Homo sapiens: one gene and its partner. The protein of the gene in region 1 purifies or fractionates together with the protein of each later gene. This does not show direct contact. Each region holds a gene or a part of one and is shown on either strand. Other genes may lie near its edges. The genes, in order: ELFN1 and ETFB.

Region 1 (4,507 bases):
AACGACCAAGGCCTCCCACCCTGCTGGAATCCCCTGACCTGAACCAACACAACAGGACACAGACGCCAGACATAGGACCCCTCCACCACCCTCTCCGGCCCCACCCCAATCCGGGCCTCAGTCTCCCCATCTGTACAGCTGGTGCTGGAATGGATGGCGCCATCGTCCACTGCAGTGGCTCCACCACCAGCCACCCCCACAAACACCCACCCAAGGCCACTTGACACCTGAGCTTGTGCTGGAAGAAACCAAATCCACAACAAAAACAAAAAGGAAAGAGCGGGGGGGGGCGCTGGAGAGATGACAAATGTATCCAATGTCCGCGGCGGTGCCACCATCCGCTCCAGGTTCACGCCTGGAAATTTATGGCCTCATCACCCAGCCCTGGAGATCTATCTATCTCTCGCCTGTCACTCACTTGCATTTTTAATCCTGCCCCCCGCCCCGCCACCGGCCCCCTCGTGTATTTATGCACCACCCACCCGGGCATCTCGAGGGCCTGCCTGTTTCTTTCTTGTGAAGATATATGAACACCCCAAGTCCATGCACCTCTGCTCATAAATTTCCTCCAATGCGATGGTGTCTGAGTCTGGCACGGAGAAACACAGTCCCCTACCAAAATGGGGAATTGGCTTGTCGGGGGGGAAGGGATCCTGGGGTGGGGGCTCTGACCTCAGGGGGACCTTAGAAGGAGGCTTTCCTGAGTGCTTAGAAAATTCTATCAAAATCTAGAGCTGATGCGTGTGTGTTGGAAACAGATAGAGAAAGTCACCAACATGGGACCCAGGCAGCCACTCCGATTTTACCCCATTGATCTCAGGCACTGTGGTCATATTTTAGTCCCATTAATTTTTCTCTCCTGGAGAGCAGGTGAAGCCTACAAGTATACATTTAGGGTGAAAATATTCAAATGCCGGGGTCCGAGACAGGCAACTACTCCAGGCTCTGGCCCTGGGCGCTTGCTGGGACCCCGGACACCTGTTTCTTGGTGGGGACCGTGGTAGGGAGGTGGAGGAGCAGCAGCCTCTCCCTGGCCCAGGTGTGGGGAGCCTGCCTCCAAAGACACTTTGAAAAATCAGTGCTTTCCAGTGGCAGTCCTGGGGCATGGTGGGGAAGGGACGCCGCCCTCCCTCCCCTCCTCTGGTCCTGGGTGCAGGTGCCCACCACATCCCTGCACCCTTACCCCAGACTTACCAGGCCTCAGGAGTGTGGCTCTGGTTCAGGTGCCCACTGGCTTTTCTGGGAGTCGGGAGCTGCCTGCCGAGCCTGCTGTATCATCCTGAATTATACGCACACAGCAGTCCTGCTGCGGCCGAGGAGGAGGGGGCTGCACAGCTGGCTGTAGGACAGGGGGAGGGGCATGGCCCCCAATCTCTGACTTGGAGACCCCCAGGTCTTCTGCCCACTAGGGGTGGGGATCAGAACTCCCTGACCACCGTATGCCCAGGAAAATGAGGGACCCAAGTGCTGGGGTCCTGGCTGGGCTCCAAACCCCCTCAAATCCAGGTGAGGGGGTGACCCCCTCCCACACACGGCCCCCTGGAGTTTGTCCCCCTGCTTTGGTGGAGTGGGGCGCAAACCTGGGCTGGGACCTGTAAGCCAGTCTTCTCAATGCTTGTTCAATTAAAAGGTGGCAGGGGCAGGGACCCAGGGGGCAGGAGGCCAGGGGGCCAGCCAGGCAGAGAAGAGGAGCATGTTGATGCTTTTCAAGCAACCTATGCCCAACCCAATGGGGTTTCCCCCAAGGCTGGGTGCAAGCTGGACCTCTTTGGAGGCTGGGGGCCTCTCTAGGGGGCAGCCCCTGAGAGAGGCAATATGGGGAGATTTGCCATTTACATCTGCTCCTGGCTCCCGGTCCCTCCACAGCTTCTGTCCCCAGGCTCTCCGCACAGCCCTTAGCCCAATCGAGGGAATGAGCGGCAGAGGCAGCCAGCCCAAGCCAGGGTCCAAAGAGGCCCCACTCCGGGTGTGCAGGAAGGGAAAGTGCTGGCACGGAGGCTTTTTGAGGACGTGCACACCTGGCTCGGCCGGCCTCGACCCTTTCTGCTAAGCCTTCGTTTTTTTCAGAAGGCATGATCATCCTAGCCCCATTTCACAGGTGTGGAAACTGAGGCTCTGAGATTCACCTGCCCCAAGGTCACACAGCTGAGACCTGGAAAAGCCGGATTTTCATCTCAGAGGGTGTCGTTTTTATGGGGGGGGGGGCGGTGTGCGGTACGGCAGGCAGTGCCCCCCGCCCCACCCTCAGCATCAAGCAGGTGACCTGCAGGTTTCAAAGGATGGAAATGGGGGCGCTTGTCTTTAGAGGCAGGTTGGGGCACGGAGGCTTGGCAGCCTCCTCCCAGCCCCCAGAGGGACGAGGACGAGGATGGACTCCAGGTGGGGCGAGGGGTGGAAAGCACCCAGTAAGTTCAGTTCGGAGCGAAGCCCCCCACCCCACCCCCCCGCCAGTGGTTGGACTCAGGGGCTGGGACCGAGGAATGTGACCCCTCCCCGTGCGTGACTGGACGGTCCCCGCGCGGAGCGAGGAGGCTCGCAGCGTCGGGGGGAGGGCGGCCCAGCAGGGAGGGCGATGCGAGCCTGGGGAGGGGTCAGCGACTCGGCCAGGAGGTGAGGACAGCCCCCTAATTTCCGGGAAGGGAAGGGCAGGGGGCCGCGTCTGGGGGGCGCCGGGCAGGGTGCGGACGGCGAAGGGGGACGGAAGGGAGAGAGGCGCTGGGGAAGGGACCTCTCGGAGGCACGGGGCAGCGTGCGGGCTGCGGCAGCGACCCCGACCCGGGCCCCCGGGCTTTGTCGGGCTGAGCCTGCGCCCGCTCCGCCGCCGCCAAGTTCCTCCAACTTTGCCCGCTGCGCTCGGATCGCGCGCCAGGCCTGGGGGCGCAGCAGGGGCTGGGGGCGCACGCTGCGCACTCGGGGACGCCCGGGGTTCGAGGTGGCGGGGGGCTTGGCCGCGCCGCTCCCCGGGGGTGGTCCGGGTCCCAAGTCCCCCAGGTTCAGCGCCCGGCCGCGCTCGCCGCTTACCTGCCCGCCCGGCCTCGGTTCCGGGGCTGCGCCCGCAGCCGCCGCCGTCCTTCAAGCTCTAACTTCGCTCCCGGGATTGAAATTCCTCCCCAGCTTCGCCCATCGATCTGCGCGCGCGGCCCCGCCCCTCGCCGCGCGGCCGGGGGGGAATTCAAGCTCGCCCTGCCCCCTCCCGCCCCCCTTCCCTCCCTCCCTCCCTCCTTCTCTCCCTCCCTCGCTCCCTCGCCCGCCTGCGCGCTCCCTTCCACCCCCTCTTCCTCCGCCGCGAGTCCGGCTCGGAGCCTCTGGCCCTCCCCTTCTCTCCCTGGCCTCCCGAGCCCCCTGCTCTCCTCGGCTCCCCGCGGCAACCCGCTCCTTCCCTCTCCCGGCGACGCGCAGGGGCTGGGGAAGGAGGGGAGGTCCTAGAAAGCGCAGGGGGCGTCCTCGCGGTCCGTCCCCGGCCCTCCCCGCCCACATCTAAAAGGTGGAGGGGGTGGGTGGGTGGGTGGGGGGAGTGGGGGCGACAGCTGTTGGCTGAACAAGCTACCCGCGACTCCCACCACCTCAAGCAAAGCCAAGGCGTTCTCAGGTCCTCCCGTCGGTCCGCCCCTTATCCGGGAGGGCAGGGACCTAGGGGCGGAGAACGCAGGGCGCAGGCCGGGCCTCCTCTGCCCAGCCCTGGCCCCGCTTCCTTCCTTCATTCACCCCAACCTCTGTGAGGACTTCAGGGGGTTCTGGAGCACTCTTCGGCTCAGTTTCACCCTGACAACCTGCCTGTGCGGAAGCCCCCGTCCGCATGTTACAGGAAGGGAAACTGAGTCAAGAGAGGCCCAGAATCTGGCCCTACACAGCGCGTCGAAGGCAGAGCCCCAGGGGCAGCCTGGACCCCCGGCAGGAGCCTCGGGACTCCACGCTCGGGCCGGGCAGGCCCCGGCGGTGCCTGGACAAGCCCGCGTTCGCAGAACGGCCGGCGCCTGGGGACCCTCTCCAGTCCCCGCGCAGCCCGCGCGTCCCCGCCGGCGCCCCCTCCCCGCTTCCTGTCCCCCGCCCGCCTCTGGTTCCCGGCCTCAGTACCCCCGGCACGCTCTCCGCTCGCCGCCAGCAGCTGGGCAATTCAACGAGCATACAAAAGAGTTGACTCAATTCAAAGGCAGCAAATCAAGATAAATCCTATAGTGTGTGGGGACCGGAGAGGGAATGTGAATGAACGCCCACGACGCCGTTCAGTCCTGTATGGACCGGCCTAGCCCGGCTGCAGGGCCTGACACGCCCGGGTCCTAGGGTTCTCCAGGAGCCAGAATCGGAGAGTGGGCTCTGAGCTGCCTTGGCTCCCAGGCCCCCAGCACTGGCCCGAATTTAGTAATTTAGAGCTTGTGGCCTCCTTCGGCTGGCTGGGTGGGGCTCCCGTGATAGGGGTGCAGAGCCTTGAAGGGGAGTGCTAGGACGAAAGCCAGTGCGCCCCCACGATTTCATGCAAATACTGGGGGGCAGGGGCCCTGGAAACCCA
Region 2 (2,667 bases), on another chromosome or scaffold:
ATAGGAAGGAACTCACCCAAGATCTAGCTGGCAAAGGTAAGAGTGAGCATATGAAATCAATATATCTGACTCTATCAGAAGGCCAGAGGAATGGAACACAATTTTTTAAATAAAAAATTAGTCCAGGCGCTGTGGCTCACGCTTGTAATCCCAGCACTTTGAGAGGCTGAGGCGGGCGGATCACTTGAGGTCAGGAGTTCAAGACAGCCTGGGCAACATGGTGAAACCCCGTCTCTACTAAAAGTACAAAAATTAGCCGGGTGTGGTGGTGCAAGCCTGGGCAACAGAGCGAGACTCTGTCTCAAAAAACATAATTAAAAAAAAATTAACCTGACTGTAGACCCAGGCTGTTCATTGCAACGCTAAGTTTTGATTCTCTGTGGCTTGTCTGTCTCACACCAGAACCACAGCTTCTGGCCTCATTCTCTCCTGTGTCCCTGCTGAGACTGGGGACACAAGAGAGAATGAGTGTCCTGCAAACATCGTGGATAAAAGCCCTTCTTCTCACCCACCTCACTGATATTTGTGTTCCAACACTCAACTTGGAAGTCATCTCCCTGGGAAATCTCTGACCCCACCGGCTGGGCCAGGCCAGGTCCCCCAGTTGGGTTCCCAAGGGCCCAGTGTGCCTCCACGTCTAGCATACTTCACCCCGAATTACAGCTGCCTTTGTCCTCATTGTCCCCCGCATCAATACAGAGGCTCCTCATGGGCAGGGACTGGATCCACAGGGCCTGGCACACAAAAGACTCAAGTAAATGTTGAATGAACCAAATAATGGGTCTCTAGGAAATAAGTTAACAGAGATAGATGTTGAGAGTCAGTTTTATTGCCATCTCTGGGAGGGGCTCAAATCCGCCCAATCTCCTTCAGCTTGGCCACCAGGTCCTCAGTGGTCTCCACCTTGACGCCGGCCGTGCGCTGGGGCGGGTCCTCCACACTGATCACAGAGAGCTTGGAGGTCAGGTCCACACCCAGGTCCCCAGGCTTGATCACCTCGATCTTCTTCTTCTTGGCTTTCTGCACATGGGAAGCCATTGTTCACAGGGCTGTGGAACTCCTGCCACCCTTCCTGCCACCTCCTTCCCATGGGTGCCAGGCCTGCAGACCAGTCCCATGGGCTGAACCCTCTGGACCCACCCACTGGCCAGGACACGCGAAACTTCTCACAGGGCCACACCTGGTGTGGACAACTCCTGCTGGCTAGGAGGCCCTGGGAGGCCCAACTACTGCAGCAGTCCTCCTTTAGGTAACCAAATCAGGAAGCCCTTCACTGGCTGCAACAGAGTGGCAAACCCATCCTTTTGGTAGTAATGACTCAGTGGACTTTTGGTTGAGATGGCATGCTGAAGGCTCCCAATAGGCTGAGATGATGCACTGAACCCTCCCTATAGACTGAGATGATGCGCTGAACCCTCCCTATAGGCTGAGATGATGCGCTGAACCCTCCCTATAGGCTGAGATGATGCGCTGAACCCTCCCTATAGGCTGAGATGATGCGCTGAACCCTCCCTATAGGCTGAGATGATGCGCTGAACCCTCCCTATAGGCTGAGATGATGCGCTGAACCCTCCCTATAGACTGAGATGATGCGCAGAACCCTCCCTATAGGCTGAGATGATGCGCTGAACCCTCCCTATAGGCTGAGATGATGCGCTGAACCCTCCCTATAGGCTGAGATGATGCGCTGAACCCTGCCTATAGACTGAGATGATGCGCTGAACCCTCCCTATAGGCTGAGATGATGCGCAGAACCCTCCCTATAGGTTGAGATGATGCGCTGAACCCTCCCTATAGACTGAGATGATGTGCTGAACCCTCCCTATAGACTGAGATGATGCGCAGAACCCTCCCTATAGGTTGAGATGATGCGCTGAACCCTCCCTATAGGCTGAGATGATGCGCTGAACCCTCCCTATAGGCTGAGATGATGTAGTGAACACTCTGTAATGGCTGAAATGACTCATTGAACCCTCCCCATTAGTTGAGATGATCCAGTGAACCCTCCCTGTTGGCTGAGATGAATATTCTCTATTGGCGGAGATGACCCACTAAACTGTTAATATTGGCCAAGATGACCCAGCGAACCCATCTACTGGCCATGATGATTAGTGAACTCTACCTGTTAGCCAAGAGACCCCATGCACCCTTCCTAGTTAACTAAGATGATCTACATGGTAACTTCACATTGGCAAAAATTACCAAGGGGACCCTCCCTAATGAACCTAGATGACCCAGTGAACTTGTTCCACTGGCTGGAATGACAAAGGGAACACCTTCTGCTGCCCAGCGAAGGCTTTCTACTGGCCTAGATACCAGCAAGCCCTCCCTGCTAGCCAAAGCAGCCCCCATGAACTCTCAGTATTGGCAGAGATGACCCAGCAAACTCTCTCTATCAGCCAAACTCCAGGTGACGGCTTCCTGTGCACGAGACCTCCTTTGGATCCTTCCCTCCCCACGTGCGACCACCGGGGGGCACTGGGCTGGCAATGTGCTTGCCACCCCCAGGCCCTCAGTGCCCGCTGGCCAGGGGCTCACCATGATGTTGGGCAGCGTGGCGTAGCGGGGCTCGTTGAGCCTCAGGTCAGCTGTCACCACAGCTGGCAGCTTCAGGCGCAGGGTCTCCAGGCCCCCATCGATCTCCCGCTCCACTTTCAACTTGTCCCC

What was found.
Region 2: the proteins of ELFN1 (region 1) and ETFB fractionate together in Homo sapiens (co-fractionation; one large-scale study listed by BioGRID). This does not show direct contact.

What each region holds. Positions count from the first base shown.
Region 1 is NC_000007.14:1,668,869-1,673,375, reverse strand, and holds the start of ELFN1 (protein ELFN1 precursor), read right to left. Parts: upstream 3,100-4,507; 5' UTR 3,022-3,099; exon of another isoform or gene 1,195-3,021; intron 1-1,194. UniProt on the Homo sapiens protein: Postsynaptic protein that regulates circuit dynamics in the central nervous system by modulating the temporal dynamics of interneuron recruitment.
Region 2 is NC_000019.10:51,344,362-51,347,028, forward strand, and holds the end of ETFB (electron transfer flavoprotein subunit beta), read right to left. Parts: coding exon 2,539-2,667; intron 1,021-2,538; coding exon 850-1,020; 3' UTR 808-849; downstream 1-807. UniProt on the Homo sapiens protein: Heterodimeric electron transfer flavoprotein that accepts electrons from several mitochondrial dehydrogenases, including acyl-CoA dehydrogenases, glutaryl-CoA and sarcosine dehydrogenase.